Regions from separate parts of the Homo sapiens genome. Here all the other regions are reported to be linked to region 1. Evidence: microRNA targets listed by miRTarBase, many of them from high-throughput screens and not tested one by one. Region 1 holds a microRNA gene; each other region holds the end of a gene's coding sequence.
Evidence for each region. Region 1 holds the annotated microRNA hsa-miR-3160-5p (GGCUUUCUAGUCUCAGCUCUCC, at 1,438-1,459, shown strand). A microRNA usually pairs through its seed, bases 2 to 8, with sites in the 3' UTR of a target mRNA and lowers its output. Matches are read on the target gene's strand: a 7mer-m8 pairs with bases 2 to 8, a 7mer-A1 pairs with bases 2 to 7 and ends in A, and an 8mer does both.

Region 2: miRTarBase lists RFFL as a target of hsa-miR-3160-5p. Seed matches in the 3' UTR shown: 8mer at 1,297-1,304 and 7mer-A1 at 852-858.
Region 3: miRTarBase lists SRRM4 as a target of hsa-miR-3160-5p. The part of its 3' UTR that is shown has no 7-base or 8-base seed match.
Region 4: miRTarBase lists SKA2 as a target of hsa-miR-3160-5p. Seed matches in the 3' UTR shown: 7mer-A1 at 1,709-1,715, 7mer-m8 at 1,301-1,307 and 7mer-m8 at 910-916.

The regions. Positions count from the first base shown.
Region 1 is chr11:46,450,202-46,453,314 of GRCh38, reverse strand. It overlaps MIR3160-1 (microRNA 3160-1), which reads left to right and starts at 1,426; the gene lies at 1,426-1,510. The region is part of intron 11 of AMBRA1 (autophagy and beclin 1 regulator 1); the gene reads left to right. It overlaps MIR3160-2 (microRNA 3160-2), which reads right to left and starts at 1,508; the gene lies at 1,428-1,508.
Region 2 is chr17:35,009,466-35,012,578 of GRCh38, forward strand. RFFL (ring finger and FYVE like domain containing E3 ubiquitin protein ligase) reads right to left here. Exons shown (of 7, transcript NM_001017368.2): 7 at 1-2,684. The coding sequence ends at 2,503. It overlaps LIG3 (DNA ligase 3), which reads left to right. Exons shown (of 20, transcript NM_013975.4): 20 at 1-278. RAD51L3-RFFL (RAD51L3-RFFL readthrough) reads right to left here. Exons shown (of 7, transcript NR_037714.1): 7 at 1-2,684. Among named protein-coding and RNA genes, the nearest start is that of LIG3, 31 kb to the left of the region's middle.
Region 3 is chr12:119,156,280-119,159,392 of GRCh38, forward strand. SRRM4 (serine/arginine repetitive matrix 4) reads left to right here. Exons shown (of 13, transcript NM_194286.4): 13 at 216-3,113. The coding sequence ends at 519. Among named protein-coding and RNA genes, the nearest start is that of HSPB8, 21 kb to the right of the region's middle.
Region 4 is chr17:59,109,513-59,112,512 of GRCh38, forward strand. It overlaps SKA2 (spindle and kinetochore associated complex subunit 2), which reads right to left. Exons shown (of 4, transcript NM_182620.4): 4 at 345-2,833. The coding sequence ends at 2,765. The region is part of intron 1 of LOC124904039 (a long non-coding RNA gene); the gene reads left to right. Among named protein-coding and RNA genes, the nearest start is that of TRIM37, 4.1 kb to the left of the region's middle.

The DNA of each region.
Region 1 (3,113 bases):
CAGCCTGGGTGATAGAATGAGACCTTGTCTCTTTGGGGAAGAAAAAAAAAAAAGTGAAGTACTGAAACATGCAATAAGCGTGGATAAACTTTGAAAATGTTATGCTGAGTGAAAGAAGCCAGACACAGAAGGCCACCTACCATATGATTTCATTACATGAAATGTCCAGGAGAAGCAATTAGTGATTGCCTAGGGCTAGGGCAGGAGTGGGACAGAGTAAAAGGGAGTGACTGTTAATGGGTACGGTATTTAGGGGAGATGAAAATGCCTGAAATTAGACAGTAATGATGGTGGTTGTAAAATTTATTTGCTGATGGTTACATAACTGTGCGGATATGCTAATAACCTTGAATTGTATACTTTAAAATAGGTGAATTGTAAGTTATATCTCAGTAAAGCTATAATTTTAAACAGACAGACACACATATATATTTGGGCATTTTTCTCAATGTCAGAATCATAAATGAGAACTCAGAGAAACTTGGGACACTTCTAAGCATGGAAGAAGTCTTCTTATTTGTCATCAGGGACTTTTTCCAGGTACCAGGCTATAGGATACATTGACTGTGATTTCAGATTAGATTAAATGATGATTAGAGTGAGTGTGACTGAGTACTTAGTTATACCCCTTTCTTAGGACAGATTTTAAGACTGCATTTGAATGAAGCTTTCTGGAAAGAAGATTAAGTGTTCTTCCTAGGATGCCATGCAGATATACTCAGAAAGGGAAGATGGTTCCCTTGCTCTGAGAATTATTTTTTGTAAACAGAAGCCAGTGTATTTATTTACAGAGAGCTCAGATAATCCATAAGAGAAAAGTTAAAGTAACCAAAGCTAGGTAGGGTAGCATGTGCCTGTTGTCCTAGTTACTGGGAAGTCTGAGGCAGGAGGATCACTTAAGGGCCAGGAGTTCAAGGCAAGCCGGGCAACATAGTGAGGCCCCATCTAAAAAACAAACAACAACAACAACAACAACAAAAAACCTTAAAATAACAAAGGTTTTTAAAATGTACATAAGACACTAGTAGACCATCTAAAAGATACACAGTGAGCTGGTAAACAAATGAAAAGATGTTCACCAATACTCTTAATTATTAAGGAAATGAAATGGATCCAAAAAATAGGATTACCATTTTTTACTTCACAAATTGATAGACATTTATTTGAATAGTGTTTTCTTAATAACAGCATTATTGAGATATGATTCACCTACCATACAGGCCACCTATTTAAAGTATACATTTCAATGGCTTTTAGTATATAGAGTTGTGCAGTCATCACCTCTATCTAGATATTTCATATCATCTTTATCACCTCCTAAAAAACCCCATACACATCAGCAGTCACTTCCCCTTTCCCTCTCTCACATCCCTCCAGCCCAAAGCAACTGTCAATCTGTTTGAAAAGTTGATAAGTTTTTCAGTTGGACCTGCCCTGGGCTTTCTAGTCTCAGCTCTCCTCCAGCTCAGCTGGTCAGGAGAGCTGAGACTAGAAAGCCCAGGGCAGGTTCATATAACAGCCAAGCAGAAAGATAGTAATTGTGTCTCCAGGATGATGAGTGTTTACATCCCCAACCCCATTCTTATTTCATCTTCCCAGCAGCACACAGTCAGAGATGGCCATTCTGAATTAGAAAGTCTCAAGTTAAACAGATTTTTCAGGACTGAAATGTAATTTAATCATTTCCTTCTTTGCAACTTGCCCTTTTTTACCTTCCCCGAATTAGCTTTTCTGATAGATTTGCTAATGATTCCCATTGTTCAGTATCTTCACTGAACTGTTGAATCATACTTTTCATTTCCCTTCTCCTAGAACAAATCTTAGAGAGAAGCTGTGAAGCTGTTTTGAAAAAAGATTCCTAATTCTTTCCAAGCAACAGAAGAGAAGAGTTTCTGAGAGAAGCAAAGGTAGAGAGATGCACAGAGGCTATTAGGCTTGGCAGAGCTCACCTATCATGTGACTGTGATGATTATTATGATTTTATCCCTAGACACATTCTGGGAGCTCTGGCCTACAAGTTGAAGACCTGACTCTGGAATGAGACTTGGCAGCTTAGTTTTTGCCATTGTTGTTGGCTGATAGTTAGCCAGGATCACTGGATTTAAGCTTCTTTTCCTCCTTGTTTTGTCTGTCATCAGAATAATCTTTATTTCTTCTTTTGCTCTAAGCCTCAATGAAAGGAATTTCTGTGGTTATATGATAGATATGAACTACCATGACTAGTATTGTCCTTATGAACAGCTGCTGTTCCCACTGTCTCCTAGAATGTGAATGAAAGTCGTGGCCCCTCCCTCTTTTTTAGGTTTATTAAAAGTTGAGTGGAAAATACAGACAGTTCCCATATACTCCCTCCCCTTACACCCACAGGCTTCCCCACTGTCCACACCAGTGTGGTACATTTGCTGCAGCTGATGAACCAACGTAGACACATCATTATCACTCAAAGTATGCGTTTACATTAGGGTTCATGCTTGGTGTTGTAAATTTCACTGGTTTTGGCAAATGTATGTGCCATGTATCCAACATTGTAGTAACATAGAAAATAACTTTACTGCTTAAAAAATCTCCTTGTGGCTGTACATGGTGGCTCATGCCTATAATCCCAACACTTTGGGAGGCCAAGGCAGGTGGATCTCTTGAGTTCAGGAGTTGGAGACAAGGCTGGGCAACATGGTGAAACCCCATCTCTACAAAAAATACAAAAAAAATCAGCTGGTCATGGTGGCACACACCTGTAGCCCCAGCTACTCGGGAGGCTGAGGTGGGAGGATCATCTGAGCCCAGAAAATTGAGGCTTCCGTGAGCCGTGATTGCACCACTGCACTCCAGCCTGGGCAATGGAGTGAGACCCTCTCTCAAGAAAAGAAAAAAAAAAAAAATCTTGTGCTCACCTGTTCGTCTCTGCCTCCCTGCAAACCAACCCCTACCAACTACCCATCATTTTTCTGTCTCTATAACTTTTCCTTTTCCAGAATCTCATACAGTTGGAATCCTATAGTATGTAGCCTTTGACTTCTTTCATTTAGTAACATGCACTTAAGGTTCCTCCATGTCTTTTTGTGGATTGATAGCTCATTTCTTTTAGCATGAATAATATTCCATTGTATGGATGT
Region 2 (3,113 bases), not on the chromosome of region 1:
TGAGGGGCAGAAGGGAGGATTCAAAGATTTAAAAAAAATCAAATTTTAGACCTTGGTTAAATATTAACTGGAATGGGATCTTGGAACTCCCAACTTTAATTTGGTGTAATAAAAATGATGCAAAAAAAAAAAAAATCAGGGTTGTTTGACACCTTTTTTCCTAAAGGGAAACCTTCACCAAAAGGGGATAAAAGATTTAAAGGCAAAATGAGTAAACAACCTCAGTTTTAATTCTTACTGAGGTTACTAACCAGCTATCAGTATATTATTTTCGATTTGTGTCTAGGAGGGAAACTGAAGAGGAGGTAAGGCTTCAGCAGAGAAAGCAGGTTGTAAGTAGAGAGCCAGCTTCTGCCCTTAAGTTACTGCTAGATCTTAGCTGAATTGCACATACATAGACCTGTTTTACAGAGGAACTGAGTAGCTGAATGAATGATCCTTTGCTAATTGGTAGGCATTGTAAACTATAGTATTTACTGCCCATGACAAAAGTGGAAAGGGATGTCTTCATGAGCAAATCTGATTCCCCCAACTCCTGCAAAGGCTGTGGTTCAGAATCAAATCATCCAGGACTTTGTATAACATTGAGGTAAGTGGCCCAGTGTTCAGTTGACTAGTTTATGCAGTTATTTCATTCCTCCAAAGGGGTTTAGTGGTTGGTGATGGAAGAAAGCATAAATATGTCTGTACCAATGTAATAAGTCCCTTTAGAGGTTTCCCTCTGCCATCCAGAGTCATGATTGGTTCTAGTCTCAGATTTTTCAGCTGCATGGGAGGGGTAAGGGGTGGGAGGTGTCTGCCAAGGCGTTTAGGGTTTGCATAGTTCATCCATTGGTAATGGGAAAACACTCTGCTTTCCTGATCATGTGTTTTGTGCTTGGCCACGCTTCTGCAGCAAACTCTTAAGTCCTCCAGCTCCTCTAGGGGTGTAAAGACTGTGAGGGCTCAAATACATCACCTACTCATTGCATGGTCCTTCCTAAAGAGCCTAGAAAATGGTTTCTCCTGCTGGGTGTGGTGGCTCACGCCTGTAATCCCAGCACTTTGGGAAGCTGAGGCGGGCGGATCATAAGGTCAAGAGTTCAAGACCAGCCTGGTGAACATGGTAAAACCCCGTCTCTACTAAAAATACAAAAATTAGCCTGGTGTGGTGGTGGGCGCCTATAATCCCAGCTACTCTGGAGGCTAAGGCAGGAGAATAGCTTGAACCTGGGAGGTGGAGGTTGCAGTAAGCCAAGACTGTACCACTGCACTCCAGCCTGGGCAACAGAGTGAGACTCAAAAAAAAAAAAAAAATGCTTTCTCCCTGACCTGCCCCCAAAAATCAGTGGGCTAGGAAAGGGAATGAAAGTAGGGTCTCCTCACTCCCCACCAACCTGGGAAATAAAGACTTGAACTGTCGGCTTACAACAGAATCCAGTCTCATTCAGTACCTCCTGAAAGCTCTTAAGTGCTCTGTCTTAACATTTGCTCTCCAGGAACTTCAACAGCAGTCTGGCCAGAGAAGAGCACAGGCTCTTTGCCTAAATCTATTTCTTCAATGAAACCAAATTTAAAACTACCATGGATAAGGGAGGGATTTCATTTTCAGCGAAAAGTGGCTTAAGACTTCTAGTTGGGAAAAGGATCAGAAGCCAAGCCAAAATTAAGGAGAAGGCCACTGCCTCCACCCATTGCTTCCCCTTTCCGCATAAACTAAGGATGGTGCAAATCAGGTCCCAAGAGAAGCAGCAGCAGGGATTATGCACGCACTATCCCTTGCAGACAGAAACAAATTTCCCAGCAGTTTGGGAGCCTGATGTTTTGTTGGCTCCCAGAGTCAGGTCAGGAGACCAACAGCTTCCAATCCCAGCATTTAATGAAGTGGCTTTTAACAACTTTGAAATTTTTCTATAGCATTTGTATTTCATTTCTCACCAAAGATAAGTTTACTGGTCTAAAATCTGTCCTAAGGACCACTATCGGTCTGGTAAACTAACATTTTTGGTCCAAAGAAACAAATGGATTTAGGCAATGTAGCAAGAGACTTTAGCAAAGATAGTTAAAGCACAGAAAGCCGGAGAGACCAGAAATTTAAATCCGAATGTGCTGGGGAGGAGGACTTCTGATTGATGAAACACATGGGCAAGCATCTCCCATATGGGGTGGGGATGGGTTGGGTACAGGAGGAGGGGTGAAACTGTCTAGGTTCAGGGAGGAAGACAGGACCCAAGTTCTGGAAAGTTCTCTGTTCATCAGTTACCATCATCACTCCAAGATCACTGAACCAAGAACATACCCATGTGATTTATACAAGTTCCCACTGGCCTTGGGCTTTGCCAGCCAAGAGGTACACCCCTGGGAAGACAGGCATGCTCAGGGGTGACATGGCATCTTGCTTGACCTGGTTTTGGGAACCCTGCAATATTTCTACTAGCTTGCTCCTCTGCAAGCTGGCCAACCCTGAGCCCAGACACCCCAGGCTATTTCCCTGTAAGGCACTGAAGAAACCGATGCAAGCTCTCAGGACCGGAAGACATGCACAGCTCGGATTACATACTGCCGGCAGATGGGACATTCATTCATGCGCTTGCCACACTTGGTACAGGTTACCATGTGGCCACACTCCAGAAGAACACAGTCAATGGGTGAGTCCATGCAGATCTTACACAGGTTCTCCTCCAAGCCTGATGGTACTGCTCCCCCTGTACAAACACACAGGGCAGAAAAAAAGGGGCAGAGGAGTGAGGAGAATGTCTTAAGTGTATAGGGGTGACTGGGGGAGGGAGGTGGGAGATAACAGGTACATTGTAAACAAAGTCTCAGTGCACATGCTTCCCTCAAATAGAGCTCCTCCGAGGAAACATTTCCTCAATAACCAACTCTGGTTACTTGTTTAATCCACACTTCATCCCCTCCAACAGGTAAAGATTTGAAAAGTACACAGCACTTGTGGATCAGACACATCCCAGAACATGAGAACTAAGGCAAAGTTCTCAAAGCTTAAAAGAAATAATTTTCAGACTGTTGGGGCTGTAATATAGTGAGTGTGTGAGTGGCACGTAGGGACTCATTATCCCCTGAGGCAGAACAGGCTAAAAAGATAAAACTGGTTCAGAAAAGTTTAGATAGAA
Region 3 (3,113 bases), not on the chromosome of region 1:
AAGTGAGATAATCATTTTTCAAGACATACTAGCACTAAGCTGAGACTTTTACTTTGATGTGTTCTCAGCACTGCAAGAGAAGTGGAAAGGGAGTATTTTTTCCTAAGGGACTGGGGAAAGGGAGGATATTGGTTTCCCTTGGGACAAGACTGGGGCTCGCTGCGGGGAGGCACGGAGGGGCCGGCCCTCATCCCTCCTCTCTCTGGTCTCTGCAGTGCCCGGAAACGCCCCATCCCCTACTATCGGCCCAGCCCCTCCTCATCCGGCAGCCTCAGCAGCACCTCCTCCTGGTACAGCAGCAGCAGTAGCCGCTCGGCCAGCCGCAGCTACTCCCGGAGCCGGAGTCGGAGCCGGAGCCGGAGACGGAGCCGGACCCGCACGAGCAGCAGCTCTAGCTCCCGCAGCCCTAGTCCGGGCTCCCGCAGCCGGAGCCGGAGCAGGAGCCGGAGCCGGAGCCGGAGCAGGAGCCAGAGCCGGAGCTACAGCTCAGCAGACAGCTACTCCAGCACGAGGCGCTAAGTGCCCCTGAGCCAGCTGCCCGTGGGGGCCCCTTCGCGCTGCCAGCCTCCCCCAACCACCTGCCCTCCCCGCCTTCTTGGTGACAAATAGTGAGGGCTCCTATACCTTGTCCTTCCTGCTTGCCTAGGGGAAGAGGAGAAGAGGGTAAGGGGGCTTCACTCTCTAGATCAGCCTGCTAGGAGCCTCTACCAGCATCATCCTGGGGCCCAGCTCAGGCCTGGGCATATGGAAAGAACCATCATCTTGTGGCACAAAAAAAGAAGAAAGAAAAGAAAACTTCAAGGTTTTGTGAGAAGCAATGGGTCTGTGACTCAAAAATTGAGCCCTGGCCAGGAAAATGTGGAGACAGTTCTTCTCCTCCACTGCTCACAGGAGGCCCGTGGTAATTCTCCCCACCTCCCCGGATGCCCCACTAGTCCAACTTCATGGCTGCACGTGGATGGACCCCCATGTCTGAGAGGGGTGAAAGAGGAGACCAATGGCAGTTCAGGTTCAAGATAACGGGGTCAGGCCTTTAACTTCCTCAAACAGGCCCAAGCAAAGGCTGGAAGACATTTGGGTCCTAGAAGAAGGGATATCCTTGAATACCAGATGGGGACGTTTGACTTGGTGGGAGGTGTCAGGAGATAGGAGTTGGTTAAGATGATAGATAGAAAAACGGAAGGGTTCAGCTGCTGCTCCCAATACCTCAGCATGGTAAGGGGACAGAGCCCAGCAGATCCCAGCTGTGAAGAGGCCACTGCATGGCTGACACAAAACACCTCTTGGCCATTCACAGGGGCCCTGCAACCTCACGAGAAAGGAGATAGTGGAAGAGTCAGGACAGGTTGGTCTCCAGCCCCACTTCCCAAATATGCCTCAGCCCCACTAGCTGGCACCAACTTAATTCCACGGGACCATCTGCTGAACATTCCCCAGTGCCATGGCCAGTTGCCAGGCCCCAGCGCCAGCCAGTCTGGCCTTACCCTCCGGTTGGCGCCTGCCAGCCCCCTCCCCTCTGCCCAGGCTGCCACGCCCTGGATGCCACCCAGTGCAGCCTGGCACCTACCCACCCACCCTTCAGCTTAAGCCACTCCCCTTGCCTCTCAGGAATTTTGCCAGGATGGGGCACAGCAGCTCAGGTTTGGGGGAAAAGACCCGAATCCAGAGTGCAGGGGAGAGGGGCTTGGATATGCCATGTCTTGGGCTCCTGCTGGCTTCTGAGGTTTCTTGTCAGCTTGGGAAAGACCCACCTTTATTTTTGCCCTCACCCCAAGTCCCCCCTGGCTGGGGCTGGGCAGAGAGGGTAAGCTGATCTCCGATCCACAAATACCACCAGCTGCTTCATCCACAGAAGGCGCTAAGAACGGGGAGGTGAGGAATAAGATCCTTAAAATAAACTCTTGGGCATCCCCCTCACCAGCTGACTGGCTTTCCGGAGGCTTGTGGGTGAGTTTCAAGTTTGTGGTGGCAACAGCAGCAGGACAGGGCACGGAGGGAGCGAGGGAGAGAGGACCGGTCCCAGCTTTTGGATATTTTGGGTTATGGGGAAGCAAGGGCCAAACATTCTTTATCCCTCCCACCCCAGGGAAAACATTTGGAAAATAGTCCTTTTTCTTGGAAGCAGTGACGTCTCCCTACCCAATCTTTCCCATCCTATCAACCCATGGGGCTAGAGACTGCCATGCAACCACCACCACGACAGCCCTTCCTCCATCAGAAGACAGGAGTGAGGGCCCCGGGCAGCAGTGGACGACCCAGCCTCCCCATACCGGGCCTCTGGCCCAGACCTAAGCCCTGCCCACAAAGACTAATGGATGCCAGTGCTGTCACTGCAGAAGGCCAGATGGCAGGTGCCTGGGACAGGGGCAGGTGCCCCGGGGAGGGCAAGTACAGCCACTGTAAATAACCCTCGTCCCTGCCCAGGAACCCAGACTGGACTTCAGTCTCCCTCCATGGAGACAAAGGCTTCCCAGAGCCACCAAAAACCTTCTTAGCAGGACAGCTGTGAGAGGCATCAGAACCTCACGTTCGGACTGCCTTCATCAAGACAACTCTAGGGGACCATTTTGCCTGGGGCTCCTAGCAAACCTTTTTATTTATTTTATTTATTTATCTATTTATTTATTTGATGACTGTCTCTCTTTCTCGCCATTAGCAGTATTGAATTATTTATTTATACAGAGGTTTTGTGTGTGTGTGTGTGTGTGTGTGTGTGTGTGTGTGTGTGTGTGTGTGTGTTGGGGGGATCTCCTAAATTATTTCTGTGCATCTCCTTTTTTTTTCTGCTGTTTTTTATGGATGGGATTTGAGAGGCCAAAGGTGAGTGGGCTATTGGCCTTCTCCCTGAAGGCTCTAAGCCTGGAACACCCTGGGGTTGGCCCAGAAGGAGGCACATCAGTCCCAAAATTCATCACTTAACCCAGCGTCCAGGAGGGTCAGGCCTGTACCCCAGCCTCCTGTCCCCCAGGAACCTCACAGGGGTATCAAAAAGATGTAAACAGCCCAGAGGCTTATGAGCTACAGTGATGAATTGACACAGTGGAGTTGCAACTTAGGTGGGGGTTGGAGTCGAAAGTTGGCAAATGGGGCCAAGGCTGCACAAAGTCGAAATC
Region 4 (3,000 bases), not on the chromosome of region 1:
GAGACAGAGTCTCACTCTGTCGCCAGGCCGGAGTGCAGTGGCGCAATCTCAGCTCACTGCAACCTCCGCCTCCTGGGTTCAAGCGATTCCCCTGCCTCAGCCTCCCGAGTAGCTGGGACTACAGGCACGTGCCACCACACCCAGCTAATTTTTGTAATTTTAGTAGAGACAGGGTTTCACCATGTTGGCCAGGATGGTCTCCATCTTTTGACCTTGTGATCTGCCCGACTCGACCTCCCAAAGTGCTGGGATTACAGGCGTGAGCCACCATGCCCGGCCATGCCTGTGATTTTTAAATTCTTAAACATGTATTATTTATAACTTAAGACATAAAGACACTATAGTCACATAGGAGAAAACAATTATAATCCAAATGAGAAACAAAAGATCTAAATTAAGGAGGTGTGAAGATAATGTAGAGGTTGTATACTATGACCATTTTAGAAAGAGGATTGTAGGTTTTATTGACTAAGAAGATAAAGGGATGCAAATTAGTTATACAGGTTTTAATTCCAGACAACAGAATAGTGGCTATTAACAATAAAATCAGTAAGTATTCTGGACATGTTTAACTTGAATATTCAGGTAGGGGATTTTATTGGAAATACGGATCTAGAGCTAGTGGAAGAAGTTATATTTAGGAGTCATCCACAAAGAGGCTTGAGAAACAAATGAAAATGTATTGAGAAGTGCATAGAGAACAATGTTAAGGGGGCTGTGGGGAAAAAACAACATTTGGAAGATAACTGAAGGAAATCATAGAGGAAAAATAGTACAATCTAATTTTTCTCCCTAACTGAAAGCAAAACCACTTTTAATACTAAGAATTTATTATGATCTCTCCATGATACTACCGTTTTTTCAATCCCAACAATCATCATCACATCCCAGAGCCATCTCATGACAAGAGCTTTCTAAATACTAATTGCCTGAACACTGAAGAAAATTAATATCTGATACTAAGGTGTAACTTATTTCTCTGTAATTAAAAAAAAGGGGGCCAGGCACGGTAGCTCATGCCTGTAATCCCAGCACTTTGGGAGGCCGAGGTGGGTGGATCACCATCAGGAGTTAAAGACCAGCCTGGTCAAGATGGTGAAGCCCCATCTCTACTAAAAATACAAAAAAATAGCCGGGCGTGGTGGCGGGCGCCTGTAATCCCAGCTACTCGGGAGGGTGGGGCAGAGAACTGCTTGAACCTGGGAGGTGGAGGTTGCAGTGAGCTGAGAGCGTACCACTGCATTCCAGCCTGGGCAACAGAGTGAGACTCCGTCTCAAAAAAAAAAAAAAAAAAAAAAAGGCTTTCTGTTCTTGAAATATTCAAACTAGACAGGACAATTTTAACTGAAGCTGTTCTCACAACCCTGTTTTTCAGCTATTATAAGTTTGTTAATGGACAAACATGTTCATAACTGAAATTTTAAAATTACATAAAAGTATAATTCTATAACCTGCAGAACTAACATTTGATGCATTTTTCCTAGTCCTTTCAATGCTTAGTTTTTATTACATGTATGTAATATCACTTATTGAAGGCTTACTAAATACTGAACCCTGTATTAAAACACTTTCCTGTCTTGTCCTTCCAAACATCCTGACACTCAAAAGTTAAGTGATCTGCACAGGGTCATAGCTAGAATTTAAAAGCTGCTACTTACATCTCAGATATGACTCCAAAGCCCAATCTTCACTACAAAACTGCAATACCTGCTTTCCCTCTCCCCCACTTAGCATAGTTTCAGCATTTCCCAGAACATTAACAGTAATAATTTATTGGCAACTTGACCTCTTATTGTATACATACAGCATGATTTATTTTCCTATTCACCTAGTACTAGCCAAATGTGTATGTATATTGCTATTATAAACAACCCTGTGATTAACATCTTTCTATCAAGATCTGCCTCTACTTTGAACAGTTTCCTTATTGCCAATAGTTATTTTAAAATAAATAGTTATTTTAAAGGGAAATTGACACATACATATAACACACTCACGCAAAACTGGCAAGTAGCAGATAAGTGCTCTTCTAATTTCAGTTTCCTAGCTTTCATGTAGAATGAACAATTATAGTAATAAAGGCTGAAGGAAAACAAAGATATTATTGAGATACAACAGGGACAGTCTAAAACAGCATCAGAAAGCAAGTTCATGCTGTTCAACATTAGCAGGCAAGGGAAATAGGGAAAGAAATACGCAAACGTGGCTATCACAGAAAAGCCAGCTTATTACTTTAGGTTCTGTGGGAGACTACAGGTCACATAAAAGCAGTCTCAACAATAATGTGACCACATGTGCAATCAACATTTACAAAATGAAATTATATATCATGTATAACACAAATGTTTTGCCTATACTTTAATTTACAAAGCCACATACCGAATGACTGAAATGTACATAAACATTCTTTTATGATAGACCAGAACATCTATATTATCATGACTTAGAAAAAGAAAACAGATGCAAAATAGTGTTGAGAATTTCTGGCCTGAAATTACAAGACTAAGTGTGTGTGTGCATGCGTGTGTACATATATTTAAATCGTTTTATTCTCATTTGATCCTTTTGGCTGAACTTTATTCATATATTATCTGCCCTTCTTCTTATAATCTCTCTCATGAAAGATATCATTATCCAGTCATTGAAGCCAAACCCCCTTCACCAGCCCCCAATCTCTAGACATCAAGGGTTAACAAGACATCTTCCTAAATTTCTCCGGAATTAAGCTCTTCTCTGTTAGAATTTCCTTTCCAAGTCCATTTCTTCATAAATCTGGCATGTGAAATTTGAATTGCTCTGCCGCAGTTTTCTCTTCTTTAGTCAGTGGTGACAGCTAGAAAATAAATGATAAAATCTTTATTTCAAAAACTTTCAAAGACTTAAATCAGTTTAGTTAACTTCTGCATTGTCACACCAATAAATGTTTCCCTAAGCTTATACTATGTATGTAATCACAGATTTAGAAAGGCAAGGGAAAAAACAGATACTTGGCTATTTATA